2 separate regions of the Homo sapiens genome follow, and region 1 is linked to region 2. Evidence: fine-mapped expression QTL. A gene starts in region 2. The other region holds a variant in brackets. All regions are shown on one strand. Distances are from middle to middle. Region 1 overlaps KDM2B (lysine demethylase 2B). Region 2 holds the start of KDM2B (lysine demethylase 2B).

Evidence for each region. PIP is the estimated chance that this variant, and not a neighbour inherited with it, causes the effect.
Region 1: its variant is the best candidate, but not a certain one, in a credible set for the expression of KDM2B in fibroblasts (GTEx, PIP 0.67).

Annotation. Positions count from the first base shown.
Region 1 is chr12:121,446,380-121,454,379 of GRCh38, reverse strand. KDM2B (lysine demethylase 2B) reads left to right here. Exons shown (of 23, transcript NM_032590.5): 13 at 1,036-1,260. Among named protein-coding and RNA genes, the nearest start is that of MIR7107, 6.0 kb to the right of the region's middle. RefSeq lists enhancers at 642-1,455, 1,456-2,270, 4,802-5,302, 5,303-5,803. The variant T/GAT (reference allele first, on the strand shown) is at 3,524.
Region 2 is chr12:121,577,093-121,585,581 of GRCh38, reverse strand. It overlaps KDM2B (lysine demethylase 2B), which reads left to right and starts at 4,559. Exons shown (of 23, transcript NM_032590.5): 1 at 4,559-4,796; 2 at 6,636-6,780. The coding sequence starts at 4,671. KDM2B-DT (KDM2B divergent transcript) reads right to left here and starts at 5,071. Exons shown (of 4, transcript NR_183427.1): 1 at 4,319-5,071. RefSeq lists enhancers at 1,529-2,462, 2,463-3,398, 4,334-5,269, 8,191-8,489 and silencers at 4,839-4,888, 4,969-5,278, 6,438-6,517.

The sequences.
Region 1 (8,000 bases), 130 kb after region 2:
TGAGTCCCAGGGAAGGGAGCATTTGGAGCCCATCTAGGGAAGATCTGAGTAGTCAGGGACCTAAAGGTTACTATCCCATCCTCCCTGGGGTGGCTCTGGTTTGTTGAGTGCATTCTGCATGCCAGGCTGGCTCGTAGAGAGGTGCAGTGGTGCACAAGACACCTGTGGTGAGTGCCCTCCTGTGCCCCGTCTCAAAGGGAAGGAACAGATGATTACCATCATGAGCGCTCTAACAGGATCTCCCAGAGGGGCCCTGAACCCAGTGCAGGTGGGCAGTAGGGGCTTCCAGAAGAAAGCAGCCTGTAAACTGACCAGACGGAATGAGTGGGCATCAGCCAAGTGGCTTGGGCGGGGGTGGGGTTGGCCTTCCGGGCTGGGGGAACAGAGACCGATTGTGTGGCCCCTTGCGGTCTTTCTTGGGGAGCAGACGGAGGTGGGAAAGGTGGGCAGGGTCCGAGCCTGTGGGTGCAGCCATGGAAGGTCTCGAGCTGTGTGCTGCGGCAAGAAGCACGCGCCCTCTGTCGTCCTCTCCTAGGGCTGCCATAACGGGTGGCTTAAAACAACCGGCCTTTCTTCTCTCCCGGTTCTGGAGGCCAGGAGTCTGAAGTCAAGGTGTGGGCTGGCGGGCCGGGCTGGCTCTGCGGGCTCTAGGGGAGGGTCCTTCCCCGCGCCTCCAGCTCCTGGTATGTGCTGCCATCCTTGGCACTTCTTGGCTTGTAGACAGGGCTCCAGTCTGTGGAAGGCCTGTGTCTTCACACACGTTCTCTACGTGCGTGTCTGTCTCTGTGTCCAAAAGTTCCCCTTTCGTAAGGACACCAGTCATACTGGATTAGCGTTCACCTGAATTACCTCGTTTAACCTGACGGTCTCTGCAAAGCCCCCATCTCCAAATAAAGATCACACTCTGAGGAATGGGGTTTAGAGCCCCCATCGTGTCTTTCTGGGGGTACACAGTTTGCTCCCTAACACCCTTTCCGGGGGTCTGGCCGTGCCTGCAGTCTCCCCATCTGACCAGTCGTGTCTGTTCCCCTGCAGAACCGGGCTGTGGGTCGGCCCAAGGGGAAGCTGGGCCCGGCCTCCGCGGTGAAGTTGGCCGCCAACCGGACAACGGCAGGAGCTCGGCGGCGCCGGACGCGATGCCGCAAGTGCGAGGCCTGCCTGCGGACCGAGTGCGGAGAGTGCCACTTCTGCAAGGACATGAAGAAGTTCGGGGGCCCCGGGCGCATGAAGCAGAGCTGCATCATGCGGCAGTGCATCGCGGTGAGTGCGGCCCCCGCCCAGCCCTGCGCTCGATTCAGGCCCCTGCGTGCCGGCCCGCGTGTCTGACCGCTGCTCGCTCTGGCCGCCCCTCCGCACACAGAGAAGCCGGGGCTGTGGACTCCCCGAGAGCTCTTCCTGTGGACGGGAAGGCGCTGGCCGCTTCGCAGGCTCAGGCCTCCTGCTCCTTCCCTCCCAGGGTGCTCAGGTACTTTGAAGTTGCTGCCATTAAAGATGACAGGCAGCCTGTCCTGTCTGTGACCCCGTTGCCAACATTACGGTTCTGGGTGACGGTTCTGGGCCCTTCCTTCCTTCCTTCCGGCCCTGCCTTCAGAGTCAGAAGTCTGGGTGGAAGGTCAGCGCCCCATCTCAGGGGGCTGCCCCCAACAAGGAGTGATTTATGGTACTGAGGAGCCGCGCCCGGGAGAGCCTGGCCCGCCCCTCCACACCGCCTGGCCTCAGCTCCGGCAGTGGCCCCGCGCCGCTGGTCTCGTCCCCAGACAGGGCAGTGGACATGGACTTCGCAACGGGGCGAGGTCGCGGGGTTTGCCCTTGAATTCCCTTGTACACACCCACATGCTCTGCCTTCCTCAGGGCGCTGCTCCCCGGGGGCCGGCGGTCCTCCCTGTGGAGGAGTCATCTCCCAGTCCCCGTGGAAAAGCAGGCTCGGCTGGAGGGACGGGATTCCTCGGCCCTGGTGCGCTCATCTGCAGGCCCAGCCTGGCATAGGGTGAGCCCTTCCTCCTTGGCTGTCGATGCCCCGCAGGCCCAGACACCTCAGCCATCTCCTTCCACGCATATTTCTTGTGTTTTGTTTTTTGAAATTGTGGTAAAAAAAATACATTAATCATTTTTAAGTATGCAGTACAGTAGTATTACCATATGCACGTTTTTGGGAAGCTGATCCCTAGAACTTTTTCATTTTGCAAAACTGAAACTCCATACCCACTGAAGCTCTACTCCCCTTTCCCCTCCCTCAGCCCGGGCAACCACCATTCCACTTTCAGTTTCTAAGAGCTTGACTCCTCTCGGGACCTCATAGAAGTGGAATTATGCAGTAATTGGCTTTCTGTGATTGGATTGGCTTGTTTATAGCCCTGAGCATAAAGTCCTCAGGGTTCATCCATGTTGAAGCATATGACAATTTCCTTTTTTTTTATGGCCGATTAATACTGAAAGTGTATTTGTACCAAATTTTCTTTTTTTTTTCTGAGATGGAGTCTTGCTCTGTTGCCCAGGCTGGAGTGCAGCAGTGGAATCTTGGCTTACAACAACCCCTGCCTCCTGGGTTCAAGCGATTCTCCTGCCTCAGTCTCCTGAGTAGCTGGGATTACAGGCACCTGCCACCACATCTGGCTAATTTTTATATTTTTAGTACAGACGGGGCTTCATCATGTTGGCCAGGCTGGTCTCGAACTCCTGACCTCAAGTGATCTACCCACCTCGGCCTCCAAGAGTGCTGGGATTACAGGCGTGAGCCACCACGCCTGGCTCAACTTTTCTTTATCCATTCATCTGTTGATGGACATATGGATTGCTTTCACCTCTTGCCTGTTGTGAATAGTGCTGCAGTGAATATGGGTGTGCAGATATCTCTTTGAGATCATGTTTTGAATTCTTCTGGATATACAATTGACCCTTGAACAACACAAGGGTTGGGGCACCATCTGACCTCTGTGCAGTTGAAAATCTGCATGTAACTTTTGACTCCCCTAAAACTTAACTACTGTTAGCCCTATTGTTGACCAGAAGCCTTACCAGTAACAAAAACAGTCCATTAACACATATCTTATATGTATTATATACTGTATTCTCACAATAAAATAAGCTAGAGAAAAGAAAATATTAAGAAGATCATAAGGAAAATATATTTATCATTCATTAAGTGGAAGTGGATCATCATAAAGGTCTTCATGCTCATCATCTTCACATTGTGTAGGCAGAGGAGGAGGGGTTGGTCTTGCTGTCTCAGAGGTGGCAGAGGCAGAAGAGATGGAGGAGGTAGAAGGGGGGGGCAGGAGACGCAGGCACACTCAGTATAACTTTTGTTGAAAAAAAATCGGCATATAAGCGGACCCACACAGTTCAATCCTGTGCTGTGTAAGGGTCAACTCCATGCCCAGAAGTGGGCTTGCTGGGTCATATGACGATTCTATTTTTAACTTTTTGAGGAACCTCTGTACTGTTGGCCACCGCGGCCATCCCGTTTTACATTCCCACCACGGGTGCATGAAAGTTCCTGTTTCTTCCTCTTTTTTTTTTTTGA[T/GAT]GGAGTCTTGCTCTGTCACCCAGGCTGGAGTGCAGTGGCACGATCTCGGCTCACTGCAAGCTCCACCTCCTGGGTTCATGCCATTTTTCCTGCCTCAGCCTCCAGAGTAGCTGGGACTACCAGTGCCCGCCACCACGCCTGGCTAATTTTTTTGCATTTTTAGTAGAGACGGGGTTTCACCATGTTGGCTAGGATGGTCTGGATCTCCTGACCTCGTGATCCACCCGCCTCGGCCTCCCAAAGTGCTGGGATTACAGGCGTGAGCCACCGCACCCGATGAAGGTTCCTGTTTCTCTGTGTCCCCACCAACATCTGTTATGTTATGGGCTTTCAGTTTGTTTTTAGTGGCCATCCTAATTTGTATGAGGTGACGTCTCACTGTAGTTTTGATTTACTTTTCCCTAATTCTTAGTGATGTTGAGCATCTTCTCAAGTGCTTATTGGCTGTTTGTCTGTCTTCTTTGGAGAAATGTCTGAGTCCTTAGCCCGTTTTTAAACTGATTTACTTTTTTCTTTTCTTTTTTTTCTTTCTTTTTTTTTTTTGAGACAGAGTCTCATTCTTTTGCCCAGGCTGGAGTGCAGTGGCGCAGTCTCGGCTCACTGCAACTTCTGCCTCCTGGGTTCAAGAAATTATCCTACCTCAGCCTCCCAAGTAGCTGGAGTTACAGGCACATACCTCCACACCCAGCTAATTTTTGTATTTTTGGTAGAGGCAGGGTTTCACTCTATTGTCTAGGCTGGTCTCAAACCCCTGACCTCAGGTGATCACCCTCCCGCCTTGGCCTCCCAAAGTGCTGGGATTACAGTGCATCTGGCCTAGATCGGCTTTCTTTTGGGGGTTTTTGTTGCTGAGTTAGAGGAGTTCTAGATATGTTTTGGATATTAACCCTTATCAGGTCTCTGGTTAGCAAGGATTTTCTTCCATCCTGTAGATTGCCTTTTCACTCTGTCAGTTCTTTCTTTTGCTGCAGAAGTTCAGTTCCACTGCTTGTGCTTTTAATTGGTACCCGAACCCCAGGACATTTCCATGGATTTCGGGGAATTTGTGAGCCATCCTGAAATTAAATGCATTTTTGTCTATGTGCATGCATGGATGTGCATTTTTTGGAGACTGGGTCCATGTGACCCATTGGATCCTATAGAATTTAAAAGAGCTTGTCTATAGCAACTGTTGGTTTTTAGAACGGTGTCACCTAAAACCCAATGTGTGCCAGTAATGAACCCGCGACTGTCTTTTTCTCTTTGGCATTATTATCTCCCAGCCCCCGTGTGCTGGGCCCAGTTATAGGAAACCTGTCTCGGGTGCCATCTTATCTTTGCAGCTCTGGTGCCTGGCACAGCGCATGCTGGTTGAAGGAAACCCCATTTTTCTACGTCTCCTACTCTCTTCAGCTTGACGTGGCTTCTGGAACTGATGGCAGATGCAGGCTTGGCCTGACCCTTGGGGTCCTTCTTACTCTTCTCCTAGCCCTTCTGCTCTGCCAGGGCACTTCTCACGTGTTACCCACCTGTGACATACGCAGCCCCACCTATCTTCCTTTTCTGGACCCTCCCTTTGCTCCGTCGCTGGGGCTGCCTCCGTAGCCTCCCCTCTCCACCATGTCCCTGCCAGTGTCATGCCGATGTCATGCTGGTGTCCTGCAGTCTGCCCCCCCACATGCGCCCCAAGCCCCCTGCCAGCCCCTGCAGGAGATTTGCCTCTGGCACCGCCTCCCATCCTGCCACCTGGCTCAGAGCCCGTTCTGCCATCTGCCCCACCCCACCACAGACCCTCTTCTTGCCGTGTGGGCCGTGCTTCACCCTGTGCCCCCCGCTGCAGTCTGGTCCCCAGACGTCCCCTTTGGCCTGGCCTGCTCTGTCCTCATTCACCTTGAGGCCCCGCGGCCTTGCCCACTTGGCTTCTCTCCACCCTGTCCTCCAAGTCCTCCAGAAATCAGCCTCTGCTGCTTCTGAGAACTCTTGAACATGATTTTTCCATGTTTTCTTTGGATTTCAGCGACTTAATGTCTTTGTCTTCCCAAATAGCTCATGGGGAGCAGCCATCTCCCTCGCTCCTGTGGCCCCAGGACCTTGTTTCAGGCCGTGGCAGATGTGTGTTTGGTATTTGTGGAAGGAACGATGACTGCCTTGCCTTCTGTGTCCTGTTTATTAGAATTCAAACATTTGCGCCATTTAATCAAGTCTTTTTCACTTACCAATGGCGTGTATATCCCAGCCTGCTTGAAGCTCCTCTGAGCAGCATAATAAAGGTTGGCTGCGTGCTTCCTCTGTCTGCAGGTGCACTGGGCGGGATGAGGCTGACCTGCCCTGGCCTCAGGGGGCTCACAGCCGGGTGCATCAAGTTCTCACACTTCGTGGTCTCAGGGACCCCTTCATGCTCTTCAAAATTATGAGGACCCTAAAGAGCTTTTCTTTTATGTAGGCTATATATTTATTAATATTGACCGTATTAGAAATTTAAACTGAGTTTGATGTGAGAGGACTTTAGCTAAAAAAAAAAATTAAAACTGATTTTTTTTTTTTTTTTTTTTTTTTTTGAGACAGAGTCTTGCTGTGTCGCTCAGGCTGGAGTGCAGTGGTGTGCTCGTGGCTCACTGCAGCCTCTACCTCCTGGGCTCAAGCAGTCCTCCCACCTCAGTCTCCCGAGCAGCTGGGACTACAGGCATTCACCACTACACTCAACTAATTTTTGTATTTTTTTGTAAAGACAGGGTTTTGCCACGTTGCCCAGGCTAGTCTCAAACTCCTGGGCTCAGGCAATCCGCCTGCCTTGGCCTCCCAAAGTGCTGGGATTGCAGGCATGTGCTATCACTCCTGGCCAAGAAATTTTTTTTTAGATTTTAAATTTATCTTAAAATAACAAGAAAACCCATGACGTGTTAATAGAAATAACATATTTTGGCCGGGCGCGGTGGCTAATGCCTGCAATCACAACACTTTGGGAGGCTAAGGTGGGAGGATCACTCGAGGTCAGGAGTTTGAGACAAGCCTGGCCAACATGGTGAAACCCCATCTCTACTAAAAATACAAAAATTACCCAGCACGCCTGTAGTCCCAGCTACTCGGGAGGCTGAGGTGGGAGAATCGCTTGAACCCAGGAGGCAGACAGAGGTTGCAGTGAGCCGAGATCATGTCACTGCACTCCAGACTGGGCAACAGAGCAAGACACCGTCTCAACAATAAATAAGAAAAAAGAAATAACATATTTTTATGAGAAATAATTACATTTTCCAAAAGAAAAATAAGAAGAATGGCGTTGTTTTATATTTTTGTAAATCTCTGTTATGTCTGATTCATTAGAAAGGACTTGGAATTGCCGGGTGCGGTGGTTTACGCCTGTAATCCTGGCACTTTGGGAGGCCGATGTGGGTGGATCATGAGGTCAGGAGTCCGAGACCAGCCTGACCAACATGGTGAAACCCCGCATCTCTACTACAAATATAAAAAATTAGCTGGGCGTGGTGGCGGGCACCTGTGCTACTCGGGAGGCTGAGGCAGGAGAATCGCTTGAACCCAGGAGGCAGAGGTTGCAGTGAGTCGAGACCGTGCCACTGCACTCCAGCCTGGGTGACAGAGCAAGACTCCATCTCAAAAAATAAAAAAAAAAAAGAGAAGACCTGGAATTTTCATATCTGCTTCTGTGTTTTGTCTATTGTGATATGTTGTTTTGGAGGGAGTATGAGGAAAATTTTGCCTCACACAGATATATACTACTTGGAAAAGGGAGGAGTATTTTAATAGCCTTTTTGATAACTGTGGATACTCTGATACTCAACTAGAACTCAACAGTTTTTTTTAAAGTTTAGTTGCAATGTGGAGTCTGAAACTGTATCAATGAGCTGTTCACACTGTTACATTGAAAATCATTAGCCTGTCTTGACCTTTGAGTAGCTCATTTGCTCAGGCATGATGTTGTAACACCATGTATTGGTCATCTGGAAAATATTGGCTCCCTGAGTTAGGCGGATTTTCCAAATATTGGCACATAATATTATTTTAGAAATCACGTTTGTTAATATGATTACTGATCTCATTGGAAAAGTCTCTCAGTATTGGGAAGCTGTGCGGGTTATGGTGGTTCATAAAAGTTTTCCAAAAGTCTAATTTTCATTCAGAAACTTGAATTTTGTCATTTGCAACAAATGCTGTCAGTTATTTTTCTGGAAATGACAAGCTCACTTCTTTGATCTTCACAAAAATACACCAGTGTCCAGGGGGTTTCTATCAGTCATTCCTTCAAGTAAAAATAATCTGTGGAGAAAGTGGCCATTTCACCTCCCAGCTCAGTCACGAGTGCTTTTCCTTTGGTACGCGTCACCTGTGTGCCGAGGCACTTTACGCATACTTCTTATTGTCACAAAGCACATGAAAAGGATGTGTACTCTAGGGTAAGGTTTTCATAAAGTAATTTTTACTGTTTCATCAGAGATATTCTTAGATGAAACTGGTGATCTTTTTTTTGACGGAGTCTCGCTCT
Region 2 (8,489 bases):
TGCGCCTGTAGTCCCAGCTACTTGGGAGGCTGAGGCAGGAGAATTGCTTGAACCCGGGAGGCGGAGGTTTCAGTGAGCCGAGATTGTGCCATTGTACTCCAGCCTGGGTGTTATAGCAAGACTCTGTCTCACAAAAAAAAAAAAAAAAAAAAAAGCATGTAGATACAGACATAACCCTTTTGGTTTCCTTACATGGTCCGCACAACTTAGTATTATTAGTATTCTGCATGTTGTTTAGTTTCGTTTTGGTTTGGAGACGGAGTCTCGGGATGTCACCCAGGCTGGAGTGCAGTGAATGATCTTGGCTCACTGCAACCTCTGCCTCCTGGGTTCAAGCGGTTCTTGTGCCTCAGCCTCCTGAGTAGCTGGGACTACAGGCGCACGCCACCACACCCAGCTAATTTTTGTATTTTTAGTAGAGATAGGGTTTTATCATGTTGCCCAAGCTGGTCTCGAACTCCTGAGCACAGGTGATCTGTCCGCCTTGGCCTCCCAAATTGCTGGGATTATAGGCATGAGCCACTGCGCCTGGCTTCACTCCAGATTTTTTATAATATTACTATGACTTTGTGCAAAGCCCCTCACATTTGCAGTACCTTTGAATCCTTGCCAAATCTCCATAAGGGGCTGTAATTCCCCACCTTTATGGCTGAGGCTCAAAGACAGGTTAACTTGCTTGGCCAAATTTTATAGCTAGGAAATAATGATAGGATTCGAACTCAGAGCTTACAGGAATCCAGAGCCCACAGGGTTGCCCACTATGCTAAGCCTCCCTTCAGGGCTGTCCCACAGAAGATGATAGAGTTATTCAAGATATTCTTTTTTTTTTTTTGAGACAGAATCCCCCTCTGTCACCCAGGCTTGAGTGCAGTGGTGCAATCAGCTCATTGCAAACTCTGCCTCCTGGGTTCAAGCAATTCTCCTGCCTCAGCCTCCCGAGTTGCTGGGATTACAGGTGTGCACCACCACGCTTGTCCAATTTTTGTATTTTTAATAGAGACGGGGGTTTCATCCTGTTGGCCAGGCTGGTCTTGAACTCCTGACCTCAGGTGATCCACCTGCCTCAGCATCCCAAAATGCTGGGATTACAGGTGTGACCCACAGCGCCCAGCCAATGATAGGGATATTCTGTATCTGCACCATTCAGTGCTGTCACTTCTAGCCCCTTCAAATGTAGGTACTGGGTTAAGGAGCTGAATTTTACATTTTATTTTAATTAAATTTAAGTAGCTGTATGTAGCTAATGTATCCCATCAAACAGCACAGCCTTAGAGTGCTTTCCAGAATTTGTTTTAACTCACCTACCAGGCTATATATACCTAAGAGGCTGATTTGATACAGGGTCCCCCTAATCAACCTTCCACAAACATTTGTGGAATGAATGAAGGGTCCATGGGGAAAGGGGGCCAAGGATATCAGCAAAGGTTTCCTAGAAGAGGCCATCTGATTACAGTGTGAATGCTTGCAGTGTTAGCCCTTAAACCACTCTCTCTGAGTGCCTGCCAAGGGCATGGCACTGCGTAGACTCCTGGGGATACCAGTTGGATATGAGGTTGTCCCACCTGCTCAGATCTTACAAATAAACTTCTCAAGGACAAATAGTTGGTGATAGGGTAGGAATCCTGAGACGTGGATGATCACTTTCAGATATATATTCTACTGACAGACTCAAGCACAAAGCTGCAATCCCTTATAGCTCTGTTTGCAATAGAAAAAGATTGAAAACCATCTAAAAGTTAGGGAACTAATTAAATCATTCTTGCACCATTTATCTGCCCAATGAAATGCTATGAAATCATTAGAAAGAATAAGGAAACTATAGCTGATGTGCTATAGCATTCCACATATGCTGATGTGGAATGATTAGATATCCTTAAATTAAAACAAAACAGGGCCAGGTGTGGTGGCTTACGGCTGTAATCTCAGCACTTTGGGAGGCCGAGGTGGGAGGAACACTTGAGCCTAGGAGTTGGAGACCAGCCTGGGCAACACGGCAAAACCCTGTCTCTACCAAAAATACAAAAATTAGCTGGGCATGGTGGTGCACTCCTGTAGTCTCAGCTACTTGGAAGGCTAAGGTGGAGCATTGCTGAGTCCAGGAGGTGGAGGTTGCAGTGAGCTGAGATTGTGTCACTGCACTCCAGCCTGGGCAACAGAGCAAGACCCTCTCTCAAAAAAAAGAAAAGAAAAATCAGGAGTTATGATAATCATATATGAATATGAGAACAACTTCAATTTCTTATCAAGATTCTGGTTTCTGAGAGCTACATCCAGTGTCCACCCTTTCCTTGGGAAGCTGCAGGTCCATCGTCCTACCCAGCCTCGAGTATGCCCCAATCTGCATGCCCCACGCTGCATCTTCTTTTCTCTAGCCTCTCTGTCTTTGGGCACAGAGTTGCTCAATCAACCTTTGATGAATGAAGAATGAATGGGGGTAACTCAGGCAGGATTTGACTGGGCCCTTTGTAAGATCGAGCAGGAGGGTCCAGGAAATAATTATTATTATGTTTCCAATACAACCGGCCCGGTGTTTTCCTGCAAGAAAAAGTACATCTCTGGGGTAAGCACCTTCACCTTCTCTCTTCCCTTACCTACTCTCCACTTCTCTGGGACAATTAGTCAACACTGGGAGCTCCAGGGTCTTGGCCCTTCCCCCTTTGGTCCAAAATAACCTCCTCCCCCACTTTGAGCAAATGCTTGGAATTCTTTCAACTGGAGGACAAAGCCTTTCATCTGCCAATTACTGATAAAGAGAAAATGCAAATATCGAGGGGGAAGGTGATTCATCAAGGGCCCAACATTTATTGAGTGGCCACTTAGGACCCGGCAGCAGGGCAGGCATTCTGGGGGAGGCCAAGGGGAACAAACCCCCGGCTGGCCCATTCTTTTCTCGTGTTTGCGGTTTCCTCGAGGTTTGTAAAGGGGGGGGATTAAATGAGGTGACTACCCAGCCCCTTCCCACTCTGACAGGCCAGGAACTCCTCGTGGAGGTGATAGATGGACTTAACTGTTTTTATACTAAGGTGGCTGCCATTGGACCTTTTTCTGATGCCAGCTTTTGGGGCCACTATGAGGCCACTTGGAGAGAAAGAAGGGCCTCAGGGAGAAAAAAGAATTAATTAGATGAAGCATTCTATTATATATTTTTTGCTTTATTTCACTTAATTCACTTTGCGTCACTCTCCAGCCCATGCAGCCTCCTTTGAACATGTTTATTTCATTATGGGGCAGTAGTGAGGCTGGTAAGTTACTAAAAAAAAAAAAAAAAAAAAAAAAAGCACGTGATGGCCAAGCCAGGCTCCAGTGTGAGCCCTGGCAGCGGCACATACGCGCTATGTGATCCTGGGTGAGTGGCTTTGCTTTTCTTAGTCCTAATTTCCTCCTTTGCAAAATGGGAACGAACAAGACGATTTCCCTTAAAGGGTTCTTGTGAGAAAGACAGGAACAAATAAAATGGTCCATGGTTCTGGACGGACTGAAGGCAGAACCGGCAGCACTCACACGAAGGGCTACTGATTGCACGCAGCAGCCAACGTGGGCGATTTCAGTTTGGAAACAAATTTTGATGTTTCCCAGCCTCATCCCTGCTTAAAAGATTTTTACAGCTAGTGAACATGAATGAAAACAAACTTCAAAGAGTAGCCTTTGAGGATGGGTGGGAAAGACTACAGTCAGATAGGACAGGAAACTTCTAAGGTGAGTGAGGGGGAAGCTGTCTCTTAGGACGGCCAATACGATGCTGATAGTGACATCGTATCTCCTGGTGGGGAAGCCACGTCCTCCCCACAGGTCTGTCTGATAGCCTGGGGACCATATGGGAGCACAGCAATCATTCAGATTCATAATTTCTCTGAGCTTCAGTTTCCCTATCTGCAAAATGACCTGCTCCAAGTATCCCACAGGGTTATGGCAGAAATAAAATGTCAGGCTCAAAGCCTGCTATCTACAATGTCCCTTTATCGTCTCCCTCTTGCCATGTCATTTTATCAGCATCTTTACCCGCAAGATCAGGCCTAGCAGGGCGCCACAGCTGGGGCTGGAGGAATGTTTAGGGCTAGCTTTTCTCAAGCCAAGTCGACCTGACTGTTGCTCATGATGGGAGGACAAGACAACCCAGGACCAGTGCTGGGGTAGTCAAAAACACTAGTAAGTGGACAGGGACCTAATGACACCCATGTATGTACGGAGGGTGCCGATACCTCCGCTAAGAAGCCCTGTAGGGGCTTCATCAAGGGCACTAGAGTTCCCCCCACCTATCCCAGAGCACCATGCACCTTTCCACCGACTTGTCTTCTATAAACTACCAACAAGGGCTTACCCTTCGCTCCTGTGCGGGCTGCGTTAGGAGGCGCCAGATCCAATTCTCTGCGTCTTTCGCTCCTGAGCATCTATCTGCTCCCCTTGCCGAGCGCAAGAACCTTTAAAAAATGTCCAACTTCTGTTTCAGGGCTGGTCGCCTAGTAAAGGAGTCCACAGAGGCGGGCAGAATGAATGAATGAAAGGCAACGTCTTCCGGTCAGCTGCGGACTGCAAAGGCTCTGGTCTGGCTGTATTTCCTGTACGTGTGTGTGTCCACATCTTTGAGTGCCGGGAGTTTAAAAGTTAGGCAGTCCTTATAGGTATGGAAGCCGAGCTAATTTCCTTCTGAGCCCCCCAAATGCCTCCTCCACATGGCGGGTCCGCAAATGGGGGGATCTGCAGAGGATCACCCCCCACGAAAAAGACATGCAGCAGAAAAGCAAAAAAAGAAAACAGTTATATATACAAAATGCTTTGAATTTGAGTCGGCCACACAGGTAATGTTGGGGGAGGGGTGGATGAAAGAAGAGGAAGAGGGGTAGCCCTGGGCAATGAGGGCAGGAACGGAGGTGGGGGGTCGTTTTTGGGGGTGCCAGGCCCCGGGGGCTTTCACGCCAGCATGCTCGGCTTGCATTTCCGCGCCTCCCGCTGAGGCCAGCCGTGCAAATCTGCACCTCCCTCCCCGCCCCCTCCTCCTTCCCTCCCTCCCTGCCCCGCCATCTCCGGGATGCGCCCGCCGCCTGCAACTCGGCCCTCCAAAAGTCAGCTCTGCACACAACTCCCGGGCGGCGGCGGCGCCTGCGTGCAGAGGCGCACTCGTGACCCAACAACAAAACAGCGATGCCACGGCGCTAACGGCGCCCGGTGCCTCCCGGGCTCCCTCCCCGCCCCATACCTCCTCGGGCCGCCGCCCCCACCCCCCCAAGCCCGGGCCGAGAGCCCCCCCAAATAGCCCGGCCGCGGGCTCCGAGCGCGATCGGCAACAATGTTTACGTTCCGGGGATTATGACGTCGACGCCTCCCCCCCCCCACAACTGCTGAAAATGGTTTCCTAGGACTTTGCAAACGGATCTGCCTAAGTGTTGGTGCAAAACTTTGTAGATCTCGGCTCTGGCTTGCTTTATTTATTTATTTTTTGGTTTGTTTTCTTTGGTCTTCCCTCCTTCCCCCCTCGGCCAAAATGCAGGGGGCAGGAGTGTTGACAATTAATTGGTGAACTCTCCTAAAAAAATGGAGGCAGAGAAAGACTCTGGAAGAAGATTGGTGTGTAGCTTTTTTTTTTTTTTTTTTTTTCCAAATCTGTATCTGGCATATGATAGATCTTTTTTTTTTTTTTTTTGGTTGTTTCTCGCTGCCTTTTCTTTCCTTTTCTGTATTTTGCAAGAGGACCGGGAAAAAAATATAATAAATTGCATGCAAAAGGAAGCAAGCTGCTTACTCCTCCAGCCCCTTGTGAGGCTTAGAGTCTCAGACACTTAAGTGGGGAGGTGGTATCGGGGAAAGGCGTGGAGGGGGGCTGAGCGGGCTCGGGGTTCGCCCGGAATCTGGGGGGCTGAGGGGCCGGGCGCTGGGCGGTGGAGGGAGGAGGCAGGGGGATGCGGGGAGTGGTGGGGGAGTCTCCTTAGGAAGTGAGTGTGCGCGCGCGCTTGTGGGGAGATGAGGCAGCTGCTGGTGCGTTTTGGGGTCTCCGATCCGAGCTTTGTGGCGGGCCGTCTGCCTCTCCCCCTTCCAAGCCCCGATTCTCCTCCCCCCACCTCCTCTTCTTGCACTGGCGGGCGGGCGGCGGGGGCGGCTGGGGTCTCAGCCCTTCCATTTCAGCTTTCCAGCTTCCCCGGTAGCTCGGGGGCGGCTCCAGCTTTAGAAATGCCGCCGGCCCCCGGTTCCGGCTTCCCGGCTCTGCCGCCGCGGCCGCTGGGGCTGCTGTTACCGCCGAGCCGGGCGCCGCAGCGGCTCCTCCTGGGGCCTACATTTGCCCCGCCAGCCCGTGTCCGGAGCCCCCTTCGCGGGTTACATAACCAGGCTCCCGGCCGAGTGGGCGAAGCCCAGCACATTTCGGGGGCGGGGGGCAGGGGAGGGTCCCCAGATGTCCCTTCAGTGCTTCCGAAGACACCGGAGGGGAGTACCCCGCGTAGAGCGCAGCTGGACCCTCGGGGTGCGGGCCCCTCTCCTTGTCCTGCTTTTCAGCATCTTTGGCAATTGCGCAAAGTTGCTTGGGTTGCAATGGTGGGGTGCAGGGGGCGCTCGGCTGCTGCACCTGTTAGTGCTGGGCCCAGGTTGAGAGGCGACCTCCAGCCCCCACAATAATGTCCCGGGCTCTCTGGTTTGGGTCCTCGCAGCGCCCGATTGACCGCCAGCGATACGACGAGAACGAGGACTTGTCGGACGTGGAGGAGATCGTCAGCGTCCGCGGCTTCAGCCTGGAGGAGAAGCTTCGCAGCCAGCTGTACCAGGGGGACTTCGTGCACGCCATGGAGGGCAAAGGTGAGGCGCCCCCACCCCGGGCCGCCCTCTGCGCTGCGGGCCGAGCGCACGTGGGGAGGGAGCTGCCGGTGGCTGGGTTCGTATTTCGCGCCCGCGTCCCCCATTCCAGGGGATCCGGTGACGAAACGAGGCCGAGCACTGGGGGGGTGGGGTGGGGTGGTGAGGGAGGAGGGCAGGCAGTAAGGGGGGCCGGGCATGGGCCTAGGCCCGGCCCGCGCCCACCACCAGCCCCAGGGTGGGCAGAGCCAGGGGGCCGGCGGACAGAGGGACCTGGAGATGGACAGGCGGACCGAGGGAGGGCGGGAGCGCCGCGTCCTCCCCCTCCCCGAGCCGGTCGCGCTCCCTGCGCTGCCTGAGGTGCCGCCGCCTGGCTGGAACTGGGTTCAGGGCGCCCCTGGGGCATCGGGGTAAGGCCCCCCAGGCCCGAAGCCTTCCCAATCCCGTTCCCGCTTGGGGCCTGCCAGTGAGGAACTGGTGATGGGGGCGCGTCGGGTGTTTGGGACGATGCCCCCTTAGGCCTGGGGTCCGCAGAGCCGCATTCCCCCATGGGCTCTGCCAGATTGGATCAGGGACCCCATGAGCCCTGAAGCTGTTGACCTGAACCCCTACCTGGGCCGGAGCTGTCTAGCGCTACAGCCTTGATAGGTTGAAGCCAAGAATTGGGGTCAGGGGGTGACTTCCCTTCAGGCTTCTGGGGGAGATCCCTGTCCCCTGGCAGTTTGAAGTGAGGAAATGGGTCTCCTCCCAGGCCTGAGACTTGGAGAGCTCTGTTCCTTGTGGGCCCACCCAATTGAGAGCGGAATCTGGGGACGCCTCCAGGGTTTTGGAGACCTTCACGGCCTGAGTTTCTCCCTGGCTCTCCTACTAGGAGGGTGGTGGGGGTCACCCTCCAGATGTTAAGGTGACGCCCTGGGTTGCCTCTGAGGCCTCCAGAGCCCTGGCCTTCCCAGCCTGCAGCCAGTGTGGCTCCTGGTTGAGGAACCTAGTATTGCCTGCGGGATTGGGGTTTTGAACATGCCCTACCTAGCCTTCCCAGGCCCTTCACTCCTTTTCCCTTTCAGATATTTCAATTTCCTTTAAGTTACAAAGTTTCTATTTTGTTCCCCCCACGCCCCTTGGAAAACCCTTCCATCCCTCAGTGAGCTGATAACCTGGAGTGCCTCCTTCCCTCCTCCAGGTTCTGGTTGAGTGGCTGTGGCTGTGGGGTTAGCTCTGAGAAGAGACTCCCAGCTTTGCAGTTTTGCGATTTCTCTTTTGTGCCCATTGCCTCCTGGAGCGCTGGGCTCCGGTGGTGAGGGGTGTTTGTTGGGGGAGGGAAGAATAAATTTCTCCCAGCCTGCCTGGTCCTAGAGCAGGGTGCTAGTCCCAGCTGATTTAAATTTTCTCTACATAAGTGGAATTTTAATTCCTCTCCTTTCTTCCCCCATTTTTACTGAGTTGAGTCATTTGGTGGATCCTATGTGCAAACAATATGCAAACTCTTCCTAGTCATTTGGGAGGAATTCTCAGCCCAGGATTTCAGAGCTTTTTCTCAGGCTGATTTGAGGAAGTTGAAGCTGACCCTGGGGGATGGGGTGCCTAGGGTGGGTGGGTCTAGAGGGCCGGTATTCCAGCCAGGGAGAGCTAAAGTGTATCCTTAGATCTGCTCTCCCGGCTTCTTTCAAAGGGGAGGGCCCAGGGCTTTGCTCTTTAATTCAGATCTGGCCCCA